Linked DNA regions of Homo sapiens. The protein of the gene in region 2 purifies or fractionates together with the protein of the main gene of each other region. This does not show direct contact. Each region holds a gene or a part of one and is shown on either strand. Other genes may lie near its edges. The genes, in order: PPME1 and PPP4R3A.

Evidence for each region.
Region 1: the proteins of PPP4R3A (region 2) and PPME1 purify together in Homo sapiens (affinity purification with mass spectrometry; 2 studies listed by BioGRID and IntAct, with this or other methods). This does not show direct contact.

Annotation. Positions count from the first base shown.
Region 1 is NC_000011.10:74,171,492-74,184,831, reverse strand, and holds part of PPME1 (protein phosphatase methylesterase 1), read right to left. Parts: coding exon 13,310-13,340; intron 1-13,309. UniProt on the Homo sapiens protein: Demethylates proteins that have been reversibly carboxymethylated. Demethylates PPP2CB (in vitro) and PPP2CA. Binding to PPP2CA displaces the manganese ion and inactivates the enzyme.
Region 2 is NC_000014.9:91,499,718-91,507,310, forward strand, and holds part of PPP4R3A (serine/threonine-protein phosphatase 4 regulatory subunit 3A), read right to left. Parts: intron 1-7,593. UniProt on the Homo sapiens protein: Regulatory subunit of serine/threonine-protein phosphatase 4. May regulate the activity of PPP4C at centrosomal microtubule organizing centers.

The DNA.
Region 1 (13,340 bases), on a different chromosome or scaffold from region 2:
GGCACTAGGGAAACAAGCAGACTAGAAGTTCCCATTGATTAAAATTTAGTCCTTTCCTTCAAAGAGCTCATGCAGGGGGGAAATAGGTAAACAGTCACTGTACACTATGGCTATGAAATAATCCATCAGAGCTCATAAACGGCACACCCAGTCTTTCTTGTGGAACACATGTTAATATAATTAGATGGGAAAAGGATTCACAAGGATGATATCTGGCGTGAAGATTTTGTTAAATCAAATGCTATAAAAATTTAAAGTACCACCCTTACTAAACATCAATCTGGTTAGGGAAGAGGCAAAAGTACAAATCCTCTAATTACCCACAAAAGATTAGAATTCCCAATAATCAGTGAAAAAATGTTAGTATAGAGATTTTCCAACTTAAAAATGAGTTGATGGTGGGAATACCAAGACACATTTCTCCCAACAGTGTTATAAAATATTGGTAAATTCTATGAGTAGCTCCACTCCCAAGCCTACTTATCCATAATATGCTAAAATGCCATTTTTTATGAAACCCAGCTAATAATATAGTTCAGTTAATTAACAGAGAAAAACTCAATTAAAAGTGGTTTTTATATATAATGAACAATGGTTCTTATGCTTAAGGAAAAGCTGTTTAATTAAAGGAATGAAAAGGATTAAATGAAACAAGCTAGACATGTATATGTACTAGGCACTTTATAAGCATTATACAAATTTAATCCTCACAGCCACCTAAGATATATTTCTTAAAAGAATAAAGACAGAGAGATATAAATATGGAATCACAAAAGAATATAAATAGGGCACGAGTTCATTTTTGCAAGCTTTCAATAATCATATTTTTTAAATTTCACTCTAAGTCTATGGCTCCTCCCTCCCATTTACTTCTCTATTAAATTCAGGATGGACAATTCTAAACTATTGCTATTGGGAAAATGTGATGTTTCCATTGCATCTGAGTGTCATTCATTCACTCAACAAATGTTTATTGAGCTCCTAAATGCTAACTGCCTTAGGACAAGTAAATAACATACAAAAGGAGTTTACAATTAAGAAAACTAAACAAGCAGATCACAATCTTGTTGCTAGAATAGATGAAATACAGTATGTACAAGGCACCATCAATTTGTAAGATGAAAAGCTAAGAAAAAGAATTTGTAAGATGAAAAACTAAGAAAAAGAACTATCAAGTATGACACAATACTTTATCACTTAGAATTCATTTTACATTTTTTATATAAAAAAGAATTCATTCTATTTTTCTATAGAAGAAATAGCTCTTTTACACTTATATAGATCCATTATATATTACTTATGGAGACATATATATAATATATATAAATGAAAGCAGAATAAAATACTTAAGGTATTCCTGACCATTTCTTCATAGTTGGAGTCCCACTCTCTTTTGAATCACTTGGACCAATATAGTTTTCTGTGCCTCACAAGAACATTGGTGATGGAATGTTTCATATAACTAAACACCAGTTCATATGCCAGCTTTACAATTATTTAGAGCTATCTTACTTTTTTTGTTGTTGTTTTGTTTTGAGACAGGGTCTCCCTCTGTCATCCAGGCTGGAGTACAGTGTCACGATCATGGCTCACTGCAATCTCAACCTCCTGGGCTCAATTCATCCTCCCACCTCAGCCTCTCCAGTGGCTGGGACTATAGGGACATGCTACCATGCCTGGCTAATTTTTTAACTTTTTGTAGCGATGTGGTCTCACTATGTTGCCCAGGCTGGTCTCAAATTCCTGGGCTCAAGCAATCCTCCCACCTCGAACTCCAAAAGTGCTGGGATTACAAGCGTGAGCCACTGCACCAGCCCGTACTTTTTTTTTTTTTTTTGGTAGAGACAAGGTCTAGCTATGTTGCCCAGGTTGGTCTTGAACTCCTGAGCTCAAGCAATCCTCCCACCTCAGCCTCCCAAAGTGTTGGGATTACAGGCATGAACCATGGTGCCTGGCCTCAGCCTTACTTTTGACTCTCACTTTAGGAATGTTGCTCAACCCACCCGATTGAACACCCACGCCTCCTCACAAGCATTCAGTTCCTAGTGGTTAAAAGAGCAGTCCAGTTTTACCTCTAAGAAGTTCTCAACATGTATACGTTTTGTAAATTTTGATTCTGGTTTTGGTGTTCACTTATGTTCAGGCAATGAGAACCATGTTAGAATTGTTACCTGACCAACAGCATTGTTAAGACACTATCTCCCAATGCTTTAGGAGGCCAAGGTGGGCAGATCTCTTGAGGTCAGGAGTTTGAGACCAGCCTGACCAACATGGTGAAACCCTGTCTCTACTAAAAATACAAAAATTAGCCAGGCGTGGTGGCACACACCTGTAAACCCAGCTACTCGGGTGGCTGAGGCAGAAGGGTTGCTTGGACCTGTGAGGCAGAGGTTGCAGTGAACCGAGATCATGCCACTGCACTCCAGCCTGGGTGACAGAGTGAGAACTCTGTCTCAAAAAAAAAAAGACATTATCAATTTAAATGTAAAAAAGAAATGTATCTTAGAATTGAGGAAATACAGTAAGTTTCCATTAGACAGTTTTCCAATTTAAATAATATTTCTACACATAAATCATCTCATTTTCTCCTCAAAAATTCTATGAGGCTAGCATTATTATCTACATTTAAAAAAAAATAAAGTCAAGTTTGCACCAGTTAAGCGGTAAGTAGTAAAGCCAGGAAGAGAATCCTAGTTTGTTGATTTTAAAACCTACCTTCCTTCTACTACAAGACAGTAGAAGTATAGAACTAACTGGGTTGGCAAACTACAGCCTACGGGAAATCCAGCCCACCACCTATTTTTGCATGGCCCAGGATCAGAGAATGATCTTTACATTTTTAAAAGGTGGAGGGCAGGGGGAGAAGAGAGACTAATGACATGTGGAAATTATGTGGAATTCAAATTTCAGTGTCCATAAAGTGTTGTTAGAACACAGACACATTCAGTTACATATTGTCTGTGGCTACTTTCACTCTAAAACAGCAGAGCTGAGTAGCTGCAACAGAGACTAACATGGCCCACAAAGCCTAAAATACTATCTGGCTTTTAACAGAAAATGTTTGCTGATTCCTGGTAAAATGACAGGTGCCACCAAAGGACAGAAAATAGAAAAATCGGTGCAAGCTGGACTGATCAGAAAAAGCCTCAGAACTTTATTTTAAATGAATTTGTGCTATGTGTCCATTAAATTAAATTTTACAAAAACATTTAACTGTGTTACAGTAGAAAGCACAAAGAAACAAAGGTCCTTGCACTACAGGAGTTCTAAATGTTATTGAGGAAACACACAAAAATCTGCATAAAATTATCTTCGATAAGTCTGACACAGTAACAGTGAAAAAGTACAATACCAATGCAAACAATTGATGAGTGGAGATGCCAAAATTGTTATAGGTGCTCAGAGAAGAGAGAGCAAATGAATGAACTAAAGTAGTCTGAAAGTGCTTCATGAGTTTTAAAGATGGATAGGAGTTGAAAAAGTGGGCCGGGCGCGGTGGCTCACGCCTGTAATCCCAGCACTTTGGGAGGCCGAGGCGGGTGGATCATGAGGTCAGGAGATCGAGACCATCCTGGCTAACAAGGTGAAACCCCGTCTCTACTAAAAATACAAAAAAAAAATTAGCCGGGCGCGGTGGCAGGCGCCTGTAGTCCCAGCTACTCGGGAGGCTGAGGCAGGAGAATGGCGTGAACCCGGGAAGCGGAGCTTGCAGTGAGCCGAGATTGCGCCACTGCAGTCCGCAGTCCGACCTGGGCGACAAAGCGAGACTCCGTCTCAAAAAAAAAAAAAAAAAAAAAAAAAGTGAAGAAAATGGAAGGCATTGCCAACAAAATAAACTTGGCAATTGTTAAGTGCAAGAAACACTTAGGAAATTACCACTGCTTAGGACATGACTTTGGAGCGCTTTTAACACTAGCCTTTAATGGTGGACCACTTGCTCTGGTCCCTAAACTTGGTGAAGGTGCTTGGAAAATAGTCTTCGCTCTTAGAGAATAAGTGATAAATTGGGCAAGGGCAGAAAAATTGAATACTATAAAATAAGGCTAGTGTGAAAATAATTGCTAATTGACATTTGCTGTCTTATAATAGTGGACTTGCTTTCAGGTTTGGGGAATCAAAGAGGAAGACATAAATTGTCAAATTTTGATAAAATAAAAGTAACAAGCCTGAATCTGTACATATCATGAGACCTATTACAAGCCTATTACAAGACCTATTACAAGAGTTTCGACCATATAATTATTTTAAATCTCAAAGTAACATATTGTAAACACAATACATTTTACCTAAAAGCTGGTATTGAAATAGAGATTCTATTATTCTATGAAGTATAACCGCTTTTAGGAGAAAGGCAGTATAGCCCTAGTTATACCATCTTAAGGGAACTGATGGGGAAATAACGTTGTTCTTATAGAACGGGGTTAAATAGGCCAGGATTTGGGTTTCTCGTTCAGTTAGCACTAAAGGAGACAGCATTCTAAGCACCAGCAAAATTCAGACACAATTCCTACCCTTATGAACCTCAACAGTTTTGAGGAATACACAGTTGACCAATAATTACAATTCAGAGGACTAAGGAGAATAGAGAATGTTCTGCTTGTCTACAATGTGATATGCCTACTAGGAGATAATGACCAAAACCAACAAAATTATATGATCAAATCCTAAGGAAAGCCAGGAGGAAGGAGAGAAAGGGGAGAAAGGGAAGGAGGAAAAACCTTCCTTGCCTAGAGAACAATAACCAAGAAATGTAAGTTGTATGTTTTTACATGAATGTCTCAAATCTAAATAGGAATAACACATCAACATCTAGGCTGCTTAAGTCTGTTAAGAGAGTTATTGATGAGTCATGAATGGGCACAGTAGCAGTCTTAATCACTTGTTGTCACAAATTCTGTCAAAGTCTAGGAGTCTGGTAGTGGAGGCTAAATACTGAAGTTTAATTGCAGCCAGCTATTTAAATCAAGGCACCACTGTTTTTAAAATGTCCTTATTAGCAGTACTTTGAAGAGAATGAAAAGAAAGCAACCAGATGGCTGGCTGAGGGTTGTGGTAGGTCTGAAGTGTTCCTTACTCCAAGGCATGCCATTAAGCAGCAGACTTCAGGATTCTAAAAACTACATCATGAATCATGCTGTTAGAGATCATCTAACTCAAATCTTACTTTATGAAAGGAAACAACTAGGTGTTTATTACGTACCAAGCATGGTTTTGAACAGTACCATTAAAGTATTCTCATTTTAAGGTGACTCAGAAATACTAAATAACTTTCCCAGAGCCATTTTTGGTAGCACCGGAGCTTGGATTTGACTTTTTATTTTATAATTACTATTTTTAGAGATAGGGTCTCATTCTGTCTCCCAGGCTGGAGTGCAGTGGCACGATCACAGCACACTGCAACCTCAAACTCCCAGGCTCAAGTGATTCTCCCATCTCAGTCTCTCAAGTAGCTGGGACTAACAGGTGCGCACCACCATGCCTGGTTGTTTTGTTTTGTTTTAGTACAGACAAGTTTTTCCTATGTTGCCCAGGCTGGGGAGCTTGGATTTAAACAAGTACGTCAGGTGCCAAAGCGTTCTTTCTTTCCATGATAACGAGGCCCAGGAAGAGAAACTGACCAGAGTCATACAACTTGTTAGTGGCAGAGAGAGGATGTCTACTTAAACCTGGAAAAAGTCTATGGCCAAAAACACACACAGAAGCATATAGGAAAAGGACTGATAAGTAAACAACTTCGGTCTTCCGGTGTGGTTTGAAATGATTGGAATTTTCAATATAATCTCTTATTCAATCTTCAAAATATATTGGTAGAATATACCTGTAACTTGTAATCAATATTGTATTTGAAGAATATCTAAGTGTGGCCACCCTCTTAATAGAACTATTAATTAAAAGTTTCTTCTCTTAAAAAAAAAAAAACTATTTTGTAGTTTGAAGGAAACAGTCTTTCCCAAACAACTAGAGATGTTTTCTGAAATCTGACATCAAGTAGCATAACATGGAAGGCTCATTAGGTTTAAAATAAAACAAAAGAGCAAATTACCCAATTTTGGAGATACTAAGAAGAAATAGATTTGCTGGCAATAAGCAACAATGGAAAAACGGACTTTTACTCAGAAGTTCTGAAATGAATGTCAAGGGGCTGAAATCTGGCAATAAGGGGCAGGGGAGTTGGGGGTGGGATTATTACTTCCTATACTTACACTGCAATGAAAACAGTAGGGAAGTTGAAATCAGAAGATTAGGCTTCTCCACTTGTTAACCTCAGGATTTGGGCCAGATGCTGTTTATTCTCTATTCCAGACATTACCTGCCCACTTCCCACTCTCTCTTCCCTAACAGAATTGTAATACTTTTGTTTGAGCAGCTAGTGGAGATCTCTTGTTGTCTCTCCTCCAGTCCAAGGGAATGAATCAAAATTGGTCTAAACCAGTCATAGTTAATCCCATTCCCTACTGCCAGTGATTGGTTTTAGGATGGGTATGTGAACAGTTCTGGACAATAAGACTTAAGGGAAAAATCTGTTGGGGAGCTTGCATTTCTGGGAAAAAATTAAAAGACAAGCTTAGCTAGGAAAGGACTTTGGCCCCCGCTTCTTTTTATTTGTAAAGATAAGATAGAAGTAGAGTGGCAGCAGCCATCCTGCAACCATAAGGTGACAAGCAAGAGAAGGAAAAGCCACCATTCTAAGGATGGCAAAAGAAAGGATGCAAACAGCCTGGGTCCTGAATGAAATTGTTTAGCAACTGAATGAACCCTGGAACATCCTATCAATAATAAATGTCCTTGTAGTTTAAACTACAGTAAACTGATAACAGCAAATTAGATTGTTTCACATCAATATAATGTTGCTAATGTGAGTTTGGGGATTTTTGTAGACTTAATTGTATTTAAAGAGTAAATCTACTGAGTTTCACAATTATTTAAGAGTACTATTGAATTTAAGTAATATTAGATTGAATATAACTTAGGTCAATACTTGGAATCTGAAATATATTTCCTTCAAAAGGGATTCATACAAATTGAAAGATACCATATTTCTTCAAGGAACATTCAACATCATAAAAACGTTTATTCTAAATTAATGTTTGTATTTAATGTAATCCCAATAAAAATACTATCAGGATTTTTTTCTGGCACTAGTCTATGGGATTAGAAAGTTTATTTGTGAGAAAAAAACAAGAGGAACCACGAAAATCCTCAAAATGAATGAGGGGTAAACAACCTCTACCACCCATCAAAACATATTAATAAATCCTCTAATTAAAAGTACAGTAGTGGCACGTAAAAGAAACTCCACAGACCCGGATTTATATAGAAATTTGGCATATGACAAAGGTGTCATTTTAATCAGTGAGAAAGAAGACTTTTTTTTTTTTTTTTGAGACAAAGTCTCACTCTGTGTCCCAGGCTAGAGTGCAGGGGCATTATCTTGGCTCACTGCAACCTTTGCTTCCCGGACTCAAATGATCCTCCAGAGTAGCTGGGACTACAGGCACACACCACCACACCCAGCTAAATTTTTGTGATTTTTGTAGAGAAGAGGTTTCACCATGTTGTCCAGGCTGGTCTCCAACTCCCAAGCTCAAGTGGTCCACATGCCTTGGCCTCCCAAAGTGCTGGGATTACAGGCATGGACCACTGAGCCTGGCCAGGACTATTTCTTTATTGTAGTGAAATTTACGTAATGGGTAAAGGACTAAAAAATTTAATAAATGATGAAAACAACTAGATAGCCTTTGGATAAAAATAAAATGTCTTCTTTTCCTCACTTTGCATATCAAGATAAACTTCAAATGGATTAAAAAAAAATTGGCTCATGCCTGTAATCCCAGCACTTTGGAAGGCTGAGGTGGGTGGATTACCTGGGGCCAGGAGTTCAAGAGCAGCCTGGCCAACATAATGAAACCCCGTCTCTACTAAAAATACAAAAATTAGCTGGGTGTGGTGGTGCATGCCTGTAATCCCAGCTACTTGGGAGGCTGAAGCAGGAGAATCGCCTGAACCCGGGAAGTGGAGGTTGTAGTGGGCCAAGATCACACCACTGCACTCCATCCGGCCTCGGTGACAGAGCAAGACTCTGTCTCAAAAAAAAAAAAAAAAAAAAAAAGGACACTACACAGGTACCAGGAAAAAATATAAATGATTCCTTTATAACCCAAAAAAAGGAAAAGCCTTTCTGTGACTCAAGATCCAGAAGCAATACATGCTGGGAGGAAGGGAAGATGCTAATGAGTAACGAGTTTATGGGAGGATGAAAATGTTCTGCAATTAGTGGTGGTAATTGTACAACTGAGTGAATATACCAAAAATCACTGAATTGTACATTTAAAAGAGTGAATTCTATGGCATATAAATTTAACTTTTTAAAAATCTAATGAAAAAATAAAAAAAAAAACAGAAATACTGGGATTTGATTATTTTAGTAACTCAATTTGTGACCTTGAGCAAATCACTTCACTTTGCCCTTTATTTCCCCATCTGTGTGAATAGCTCATTAAAGCCTTCCTAAGAGGCCTGATATCCATAATAAATTTAAGAAGATGGATGAAAGACTATCTAATCAGATATGAATAAACATACAGCTTGTGGGGACAAAAAAGCTGATAACATAAGAAACTGAAAGGAGAGCTTCCACATAAACTATGAACCTTCTTCACAGTTCTCAATGTATAATTATCTACTAGCTATCATTCTTTAAGAGCTTATGTGTCAGTGTCAGGAACTATAAGTGCTTTTTATGTATTATCTTATTCTCACAGCACTCTCAGGTAAGCAGAAGTATTCTCATTTTAGAGATAAGAAAATAGACTATGAGAAGTTAAATGACTCGACCAATGTAAATACCTAAGTTGGGCTTCAAACTTAGATCTTTGTCACTTCAAATATCAAACCCTTCAATGCAAGCTATAGAAAGAACAATGGACTAAAAATACGAAGTCCTGGGTTTGAATGTTGTTCCTGCCACATAATGATTCTGTGATCTTAGGCAAGTCAATGAACATTTCAGTTTTCTCATTTATTAAAAGAAAATATTAACTCCTGCCCTAGTTTACCTCATAGAATATAAAAAGGGACTACTATATACATGTCAGTTAAATCACTACAGAGCTGGGCATGCTAGCATGTATCCTCAGTCCTACCTACTCAAGAGGATGAAGTGGGAAGACTGCTTGAGCCCACGAGTTTGAGGTTGTAATGCACCAAGATTATGCCTGTGAAAAGCCACTGTACTTCAGCCTGGGCAACACAGCAAGACTCTATCTCTTGCAAAAGAAAAAAAAAGGAATTTAAGAGATAATAATAGAAAAGTAGAACTTTTTTTTTTTTGAGATGGAGTTTCGCTCTTGTTGCCCTGGCTGGAGTGCAATGGCGCGATCTCGGCTCACCACAACCTCCGCCTCCCAGGTTCAAGTGATTCTCCTGCCTCAGCCTCCTGAGTAGCTGGGATTACAGGCATGTGCCACCACGCCAGCTAATTTTGTATTTTTAGGAGAGACGGTGTTTTTCTATGTTGGTCAGGCTGGTCTTGAACTCCCGACCTCAGGTGATCCACCCGCCTCGGCCTCCCAAAGTGCTGAGATTACAGGCATGAGCCACCACACCTGGCCAAAAAGTACAACTACTGATAAACCAAAAACACGTTGAATAATGAATGGCTTTAATATTTTATAGTTCCTCTAATAGTAATAGTATATACGAAAGCAGTGACTTTCAAAAGATACTTCTCTCAAGCACACCAGGGGTGCAAAGCAAATAGGGATCTCAAATCTACTTTAGTCAGAGTAGCTCTAAAAGCTTTAATAAAGAAGTTCAAAACCACTGTTTTTGGCAACATCCATTGGCATCTATTAAAAGGAAGAGTGACACCAGGATTTCAGGCCTTACCCAAGAGAAAATATTAGTGTACTGAAAAGTGAATGGATTCTAGAGACTAAACTTAGATTGAATCCTAGCTCTGCTACCTACTAGTTGGGTTACTTTTAATCTCTGGGTCTGAATGTCTTTACCCACAATGCAGGAAAATATTCACCATGCAGGTCTGTGGACACATTAAATAACATAAAGTTACCATTACAATGTCTGGCACACAGTACTTACTTTAAAAATTGCTATTATTAAATTATCCAACAATACTTTGGAATTACTAAATCTAATCTGAAAAACTGAATTATGGAAACTCATGAAAAATCACCAACTCAGAATATGCACCCTGAATATGCAAACATGCCTAAATAATGTTTAGTGAAATTGAAGGCAAGAGATCATGAAAAATAGTTAAGAGTAAGCCACACAAGAGACTATCAAGAGAACAGGACTAACTTGTGAGTAACATAGATAGAGTGGAAGAATGGAAGTTAAGAAAAAAGCAAGTAAGCATAAGGAGACATAAAGAATGCTTTGAAATTGGTGTGAGACTTCATAAATTACGACTGAAGAAAAAGACTGAATCCTAGATTATATGCAAATGAGTAAGATACACAACTCAAAATAAGTATCCCCAGATGACAATTATGACTCCAAAATACACAATGGGTCTCACAGTCAAGAGACCCAAGTCCTAGTCCTTAACGGCCCTACCGCTAAGCTTCTAGGGTACCTTAGGAATATCTGAGTCTCAGTTCCCTCATTTATTAATACATTCCCTTATAGAATACAGAACTCTCTGAATATTGGGTTCCTCAACTACATGAAGTGGTGAAATGAGACCATGTCTATGCTTTCTCTCAGCTTTATGATTCTAAGGAGAAAGAGAATCTATATTATTACTACCATGAGACTTAGATGAAGCCTGCTTATATACCAATAAAGTAGAAAAGAAAGATACGGGAAAATAAGCCATTTGAGGACCACACAAATATTCGCCAATATATGCTCTTCTCTTCACAATACTATCATAAAGAAAGGCCTTTCTAAAGAACTTTCTTTTCCAGGATAAGCAGTTAACCTAAACCAAGAAGACCAAAGCATCTTTTTAAAAAGGTAAGTTGTCCAGGCACAGTAGCTCACTCCTATAATCCCAGTACTTTGGGAAGCCAAGTGGGGCAGATCACTTAAGGCCAGGAGTTTAAGACCAGCCTGGCCAACATGGCGAAATCCCCTCTCTACTAAAAATACAAAAATTAGCCGGGCGTGGTGGTGCATGCCTGTAATCCCAGCTACTTGGGAGGCTGAGGCACAAGAATCACTTGAGCCCGGGAGGTGGAAGTTGCAGTGAGCCGAGATTGTGCCACTGCACTCTAGCCTGGGCAACAGAGTGAGACTCTGTCTCTAAAAAAAAATAAAATGAAAAGTAATAAAAAATAAAAACGATAAATTACTAACAATTATACAATCTTCTAATCAGCAGATTTTCCTTTTTTTTTCTCTCAGTATCTTCATTCAGTTCTTCAATCTTCAGAGAACTTGTTTCTCCAAGATGAGAAGCTGAGCTCTAATTAAGCTTATCTAAGGAATGTATAATTATTAAAAATCTGATTTTCTTATGTATTTGTATAGAAGGGTGCTGGTATACTGAAAAATCAAATTTATTTTAAGAAAGGCAGCAACTAAGATATTTAACAACAATTAATGTTACATTAATATTAAACTCCAGGTTAGTTTTCCCAAATAATGTTATGGGTCAGTTTCCAAATTCTCTTTATTCATGTTATAGTCCAACTTTTCTGTCTTCCAAAGCCAAAACAATCTTCACTTTACCTTCTATGTAGCCTTCTACCTCTATTGTGCGTCTATCTCTCTATCTCCTCCTGCTAAAGTTTTCTCATTTTTCTACTGCGTATCATAGCAGGTCTCCACTCAATTCTTAGTTTCCTTCCCTGGTTTTTCCACCCATTTTTCCCATTCCTTTACCCCACTGTTTTATAGGATTCTCCTTTCTTTTCATCCCTAGGACTTACTGTCACAGTACTGCATCTCCTACTCTCGCCTCCTTTTTGATAAGTTTTTACACATATTACTTCTTCAGAACCTAAGGTTTCTCTTCTGTAGTCCTTTTTCAAAGAATATCTACCAATTCATCTCTAGAATCCCAAATATACTCTGGAGCCCTCATACCTAAGTATCTTTCCTACTCCTTTTCTCTTTACAGTCACTAATTCCCAGAATCCTGTTTGAAACTACAAATATCCCCTCAAAACCAAATGCCTATTCAATTCTCTCCACTTTCCAGCAATTACTTCTCCCATGTTCACCTCATTCTTTCTCCTCGGCCCAAGTATCCCCTAACCTGGCACAAGCCATTTAACGATCTAAAATTCCAAAACCTATCTCTTCTACATGGCTCTCCTTCCTTTCCAGCAAACTATTTCTCGAACTCCCAATGCTTCACTAATTCAAAGTCTTAGGCCAGTACGTCGCTTCCCTCAGATCTACTAGCCCAGCAAAAACTGATTGCCCAAATCTTCCTCTAAGCTTCCCAGACCTTACAACTGCAGCACTTCCATTCACCAAACCGTATTTATAGTCATCTCTCAATCTTTAGAGCCTATGGTCACTCTGTAAATTCTTCAGTTCTCTCCTTCTTCTCTCTCCCTTATCCTGTCCAGCTTCTCACTCTGTAAATTCTTCAGTCCTCTCCTTCTTCTCTCTCCCTTATCCTGTCCAGCTTCTCAGCACATTCCTACTACCCTTAACAATCTTCGTGGCTATGTTCTCCACCTTACCTTAGGCCTACTCCCTAAACTTTCTCATTCTCCCTTAAGAGACCTAATCTCACCTCTCATTCGCTGAATCTGTCTTTACACCTCTGGGAATTCTCTAGAATCGTCTGCTTCCTAGTTCTCCTCTTTCCTTCTCCAGCCCTGTCTCGAGTGTTTTCTACCCCCCTCAGCTTTTCTAGTATCTAGTTCTCACAGTGCAGATATTAGAACTCTGATAATATCTACTCCTCCCAAACCTTTCCTTAGTTGTTGGCCCAATTCCCCTCAACTTTTCTCTCAGTCATTCCCCACTTCCCTCCACCTTCCCTGGCCGATTCTCCTCCACCTTTGTCACCGTTCTACTCCCTTTTCTAAGCCTCCTTTATTGTGGAAGTGATTCTCAGATCCCTTATGTTAGTCTCTCAGCTTCCCCAACCTTTGCCTCATTCCCCTCTCCCTTCAACAACGTTATTTTTCCTCCAATTTCTATTGACTTGGCGCCTCCCCTAGTACCCCAATCTGCCTTCTACTCCATCTAAATATCTCCAGGCCGCCAACATTTTCTCCTATCAGTAGACTCCTTTCCCGTGCCTCTATGAACGCCCAGAGATACCATTCTCCAACGGCTGGGGCCTGGCCCATAGGGAGAAGGGGTATGGGTCACGTACCCCATTCGCATCTTGGCTCCGCTCTGACTGC
Region 2 (7,593 bases):
AGCTGAGGCAGGAGAATCGCTTGAACCCGGGAGGCAGAGGTTGCAGTGAGCCGAGATCGCACCACTGCACTCCAACCTGGGTGACAGAGCGAGACTCCACCTCAAAAAAAAAAAAAAAAAAAAAGTTCCCTCCCTGCTTCATATCTTGGTTCTTCCTATAAAATGAAATGTGAGGCCCTTTCTTGTAGGGTGCTACCAACCCCCACCAAAACACAACACAACACTACACCTCTGGGGATTGGAGATAAAGATGGCTGGTAGTACAGAGTGAGGTATCCTTCTAACAAAGTCTACATTACAGAGAACTCAGCAAATATTTTTAAAAGGAAAGGTTTTGCATAAAAATTATAGATTTCTTGCCAGGTGCAAGTTAATACAACAAGATTTATAGTTAAGAAAAAAATAATACCTACCTCACAGGGTTGCCATTAGCATTAACTGAAATTTTTTATTCAAGTGCCTGTCCCAATATGTAGTACATAACCAGCACTCAATACTTTTTTTTGAGACGGATTTCACTCTTGTCAGGCTGGAGTGCGGTGGCACGATCTCGGCTCACTGCAACCTCCACCTCCCGGGTTCAAGTGATTCTCCTGACTCAGCCTCCAGAGTGGCTGGGACTACAGGCGCACACCACCACGCCCAGCTAATTTTTGTATTTTTAATAGAGACGGGGTTTCACCATATTGGCCAAGATGTTCTAGATCTCCTGACCTCATGATCTGCCTGCCTTGGCTTCCCAAAGTGCTTGGGATTACAAGCTGAGCCACCGCGCCTGGCCTCAATACTTGTTTTTTTAGGGCATCATCATACAGTCATTTCACTGGTAACACTGTACTGTTGTATAGCAGGAAAACGAGTATTAATAATGACCCATAAACACCAAGCATTAATAATGACCCATAAACACATTACGAATAAGAGGTTAACCAATATATTCATTTACTGTTTAGGAAAAACATTCCAGTACACATTTAGTCAACATTCCATAAAAAAATTACTGACTTTTAAAACTTATGGTAGGCCAGGCATGGTGGCTCATTACTGTAATCCCAGCACTTTGGAAAGCTGAGGTGGGTGGATCACTGGAGGCCAAGAATTGGAGACCAGCTCAAGACCAGCCCGGGCAACATGGCAAACCCTGTCTCTACAAAAAATGCAAAAATTAGCTGGACATGGTGGTATGTGCCTGTAGTACCAGCTACTTGGGAAGCTGAGGCAGGACGACTGCTTGAACCCAGAATGTTGATGCTGCAATGAGCTATGATCACACCACTGCGCTCCAGCCTGGGTGAAAGACCAAGACCCTGTCTCTAAAATTTAAAAACAAAAAAACCCAAAAAACACCTTCTGGTACACAGCTTTTATTCATCTGGAAAATTCACTTGTTTAGAAGATTTAACTTCCTCTCACTGAAGAAACGAGATAGTATAGAGAATTCCTGTAATTTTTATGGTTTTATCTTCACTATCAACCAACTAGACTCAGGTAGCAGGGAAGTAATATGGGAGTGTTTGGGTTTGGGTTTAAGTAACTTTGGTCTTCACCACAGCCCTGATTTGGATAAATACTGAAGGATTTCAGAAAGAAGAGCTACACCCTTGTCACTCCTAAGCAAGCAGCTCAACCCATCAGCTTCTAGAGTATATTGTCCTTATCAATATTCAAGGCTTAAGGCAGGGACTTATGTACTATGCTTCATTAGTAGAGAGAATGCACCATCAAAAATGAGTTAATGCCAGCCTGGGCAACATAAGGTGACCCCATCTCTACAAAAATAACAGAAAAAACTAGCCAGGTATGGTGGTGTACACCTGTGGTCCCAGCTACTTGGGACACTGAGGTGAGAGGATTACCTGAGTCTGGTGGTCAAGGCTGCAGTAAGCCCTGATCACTGCACTCCAGCCTGGACAAAAGAGTGAGATCCCGCCTCAAAAAAAGAAAAGTCAATGGGGCCCAAAATCTCATGTAGGTGGGAGACTAAAGTGTGCTTTTTTTTTTTTTTGAGACGGAATCTCGCTCTGTCACCCAGGCTGAAGTGCAGTGGCGCGATCTTGGCTCACTGCAAGCTCCGCCTCCCAGGTTCACGCCATTCTCCTGCCTCAGCCTCCTGAGTAGCTAGGACTACATGCTCCCGCCACCAAGCCCGGCTAATTTTTTTTTTTTTTTTTTTTTTTGGTATTTTTAGTAGAGATGGGGTTTCACCATGTTAGCCAGGATGGTCTCGATCTCTTGACCTCGTGATCTGCCCATCTCGGCCTCCCAAAGTGCTGGGACTACAGGCGTGAGCCACCGCACCCGGCCAAGACTAAAGTATGCTTTAAACCCGTAACAGGTATGTGCTCCAAGTCCTTCTTTCCTGACTTTTCGGAAAAAAATTTAAATGCCTCATTACATAGTGGCATTTAAAAACTAAAATGGGCCAGGTGTGGTAGCTCACAGCTATAATCCTGGCTACTCAGGAGGGTGAGGTAGGAGCATTGCTTGAGGCAGGAAATTCAAGACTAGTCTGGGCAACACAGTAAGATCCCACCTCCCCTGAAAAAATTTAAAAATAAATCAGCTGGGCCTGGTGGCATGTGTCTACAGTCCCAGCTACTTGGGAGGCTAAGGTAGGAGGATTACTTGAGCCTAAGAGTTTGAGGCTGCAGTGAGCTATGATCGTGGCACTGCACTCCAGCCTGGGTGACAGCAAGACCTTGTCTCTAAATAAACAAACTTTTCAAAGTGAAATACTTCCCCTTGTACCGACACTGAGCTCTTCTTGATAAATATACAGAATGCTTGGCATATACAAGATTCTATACTACTGACTGATCTGTTCATTTCTCTCACAGCTCTTACCCCCAAAAGCTTTTCCACCCTAAGTGTTCTGACCTCCTTTTCTAATCACAGTAGGGATAGAGGCAGACCCACCTACAATGAACATGGAGTTCTATCAAGAGGCAGAAACAGCACAGAATCCCAGTTTTACCATTCGCTAGCAGTGCTGCCTTGAACAAAAACATTTCTCCATGTCTCATTTTCTTCATGCCTCAAGTAACAGTGAGAATTTAACCTGTTTAACTCTAAGATATGAGTCAGAGAACAGATAAAACTATTTTGAAATGTAAAGAATACTTTATAAAATTCAAGGTAAAAACTCAATGTAAGCACACTATTCTGGATGCCTTGGCAAGTACTTCGTAATAAGGAGCACAAATATGATTATGGCCAAAGACACTCTTCAGTGTGTGGAGGAATTCCAACTCCCTTACATTTCTTTCTTTTTTAAATTTTTTGTTTTTAGAAATAGGGTCTCATTCTGTCACCCAGGCTGGAGTGCAGTAGCATGACCAAAGTTCATGGCAGCCTCAAACTCCTGGGCTCAAGCAATTCTCTGGCTTCAGCCTCCTGAGTAGCTAAGACTACAAGTATGTGCCACATGCCCAGCTAATTTTCTAAACTTTTTGTGGAGACAGGGTCTTGCTATGTTGCCCAGGCAGGTATCGAACTTCTGGCCTTGAGCAATCCTCCCCCACCTTGGCTTCCCAAAGTGCTAGGATTACAGATGTGGGCCACTGTGCCCGAGCTACATTTTTTTTTTTTCTGAGACAGGGTCTTGCTTCATCAGCCAGGCTGGAGTAGTGGCTCAGTCACAGCTCACTGTAGCCTCGACCTCTGGGCTCAAGCAATCCTCCTGCCTCAGCCCCAAGCAGCCGGGACTACAGGTGTTTAACACCACACATGGCTAATTTAGAAATTTTTATTTTGTAGAGATGGGGGGTCTCACTTTGTTCCCCAGCCTTGCATTTATCAACTGTAAAACTGGCAGGTGGATATGGTAAAAATCATAATGGTGAAAAGTAGTACAAAGGGGCAGAGGGAGAGAGAGTATCAGGAAGAATAGCTAATGGATGCTGGGCTTAATACCTAGGTGATGGGTTGATCTGTGCAGCAAACCACCATGGCACACATTTACCTATGTAACAAACCTGCACACGTACCCGGGAATTTAAAATAAAAGTTGAAGAAAAAACAAAAGAAAGAAAAGTAGTATAATGATTTCACCACAAAGGGAGAGCATAAGCAAGGTATGAAATTATTATCCTTACTTCAAGTTAACAGACACAGCATACACTGAAAGAATTAAAAATAAAAACAAAATAATCTGAAATGGAAGATGGAACTTTGCAGGTATACGGCTATCATAAAAACTGAGAGAAATAAGGTAATCTATCTTCCTTAAAGAAAAGCATGGGCCAGGTGCGGTGTAATCCCAGCACTTTAGGCGGCCAAGTGGGAAAGATCACTTCACATCTGGAGATCGAGACCATTCTGGGCAATACAGTGAGAACCTTTGAAAAAATTCAAAAATTGGACCAGGCATGGTGGCTCATGCCTGAGCCCAGGAGTTCGAGACCAGCCTGGGCGACAAAGTAAGACCCACCCCCTTCCATCTCTTAAAAAAAAGAAAAAAAAAATTTTTTTTTAATTACCCAGGCACAGTGGTGTGCACCTGTAATCCCAGCTAGGTGGGAAGATCAACTGAGCCCAGAAGTTTGAGGTTACAGTGAGCTATGATCCTGCCACTGCACTACAGCATGGGCAACAGAGCTCTTAAAAATTAAAAAAAAAAAAAAAAGAAAAGAAAAGAAAAGAAAAAGAGCAGGGTGCGGTGGCTCACCTGAGGTCAGGAGTTCGAGATCGGCCTGGCCAACATGGTGAAACCTCGTCTCTACTAAAAACACAGAAATTCACCAGGCGTGGTGGCAGGCACCTGTAATGTCAGCTACTCGTAAGGCTGAGGCGGGAGAATCGCTTGAACCCGGGAAGCGGAGGTTGCAGTGAGCCGAGATTGTGCCATTGCACTCCGGCCTAAGTGACAAGAGCGAAACACTGACTCAAAAAAAAAAAAAGAAAACAAAAAACAAAAGGGACGTGTTCTTACAACCTATTTTGCCAGCAGAAACCTACTGGATAAAGATGCAATCCAAGAAATGGGCCCAGAAGCTTAGTGGGACATCCCTTTTCCTCTAAAGCAAGGTAGGTTGAGTGCCAAGTTACTCGGTTTTGGAAGGGAAGGCATACAGTACTTACCATGACAGATCTGCTCTGTAACATGAAGGCCACAAGTACTTCCATTTAGAAATTCTCTTCTGTGATTTTTAGACGAGCATATAAGCTCCCCTAACAAGAACTGAGCCTACAGTTGAGATAGCATTATTATAGCTTCCCCGTCCACAAATATAGACCCAATAATGAGAGAATTTTAAAACTACCCAGCCTTTCTATACCCATGCTAACACTATATACATTATAAAATTCCCAAACGCTTTGTCATTACTAAGTAGTGTGTACAGTTTAAAATGAATTGCCTGAATTTGAATCCCAACTCATACCATCTTAATAGATGAATGACTTTGGACATGTTGTCATCCTTTCTGAGAGAACTTATTAAAAAAAAGAAACGCGGCCGGGTGTGGTGGCTCACGCCTGTAATCCCAGCACTTTGGGAGGCTGAGGAGGGCGGATCACCTGATGTCAGCAGTTCAAGACCAGCCTGGCCAACATGGTGAAACCGTGTCCCTACTAAAAACACAAAAATTAGCCATGCATGATGGCAGACGCCTGTAATCCCAGGCTTGAGGCTTGAAGCATGAGAATCCCTTGAACCTGGAAGGTGGAGGTTGCAGTGAGCCAAGATGATGCTACTGCACTCCAGCCAGGATGACAGAGATTCTGCCTAAAAAAAAAAAAAAAACACACACCATTTATTTCACAGGTATGCAAAAGCCCCTATCACACTATCTCTAGCACTGACCACCAAATTAGCTGATAGCCTATTTCTAAGGTGGATGATTAACACATCACAAAAACTTAATTTTACAGACAATAAATACTTGAAAAGTGTTAAGAATCAAATATTTATTTTGTTCTAAAGAAATAATCTGAAAATCAAAAGTTTTTTTGGGGAAAAGCTACAAGTAATTTAGAAAAGAAAAACTTCAACACAATAATGACTAGGTCTAGCCCAAGTATGGAAAAGCGCAATAATTTTAAGTTTCTATTGGACAAATGACTCAATTTATGGAAAATCAGAAATACTTTCCATTTTGCTCATGACAACAAAAAGAAAATATCAATTATCCTATGATGGAGAATGGAGCAAGCACACAATAATGGCTGACCCCAACTGGCAGTCAACACAAAAACATCCATGTAAAGCTTGTAGATAAACTATAATTGAAATTTTTTTTTTTTTTGAGACGGAGTCTCGCTTTGTCACCCAGACTGGAGTGCAGTGGTGCTGATCTTGGCTCACTGCAAGCTCCGCCTCCTGTGTTCACACCATTCTCCTGCCTCAGCCTCCTGAGCAGCTGGGACTACAGGCGCCCGCCACCACACCTGGCTACATTTTTGTATGTTTTTAGTAGAGACAGGGTTTCACCATATTAGCCAGGATGGTCTCGATCTCCTGACCTTGTGATCTGCCCGCCTTGGCCTCCCTAAGTGATGGGATTACAGGCATGAGCCATTGTGCCCGGCCGAAAATATCTTTAGGCTAAAAGTAATTTTCATTTTCTTTGAAATAAACCTTCAGGCTAATAAAGCAGCAAATGCAAGTAGACAGTAACATGGGAGTTTAATATGGTTAATAGCACTAAATCAGACACTGTTGTAAGAATTACGTAAGTCAATATAAGTAAACTGCTAAAAGAGTTTGGCACATAGTAGGTAGTCAGTAAATTTTGACTTATTATCCCTATTTAGATGTGACAAGAAATGTTAATCATCGACTAAAGATTACTGACAGTATTTCACAAGTATCCTGGAATTTTTTCTAAGTCCATGGTGTGTGTGTATGTGTGTTTGTGTGTGACAGGGTCTCCCTCTGTCACCCAGTGCAGTGGCATGATCACAGCTCACTGCAGCCTCCACCTCCTAGGCTCAAGTGACCCTCCCACCTCAGCCTCCAGAGCAGATAGGACTACAGGCCCGTGCCACCGCACCAGCTAATGTTTGTATGTTTTGTAGAGATGGGGTTTCGCCATGTTGCCCAGGCTGGTCTTGAACTCCCGAGCCCACACAATCCGTCGGCCTGGGCATCCCAAAATGCTGGGATTATAGGCGTGAGCCACCGCACCCAGCCTAAGTCCATTCTTTGCATTCAGTTTTCCTTACAGCCTAAATTTACAAGGGCACATCAGTAATTTAGTTAAGCTCTCCCTGCTAGATAAAAATTAAAGTCATTTTGTTTTAGTCATTTAACCTCCAACCTGCAAAATGGAGGAAGAGAGATTTGTGGCTATTTCCAAAATGGTAAAAATATAAATGGAGGTTCGGCGCAGTGGCTCACGCCTGTAATCCTAGCACTTTGGGAGGCCGAGGCGGGTGGATCACCTGAGGTACAGAGTTCGAGACCAGACTGGCCAAAATGTTGAAACCCCGTCTCTACTAAAAATACAAAAAAATTAGCCAGGCATAGTGGCACATGCCCATAGTCCCAGCTACTAAGGAGGCTGAGGTAGGAGAATTGCTTGAACTCAGGAGATGGAGGTTGCAGTGAGCCACGATGGTGCCATTGCACTCCAGCCTGGGAGACAAGAGCAA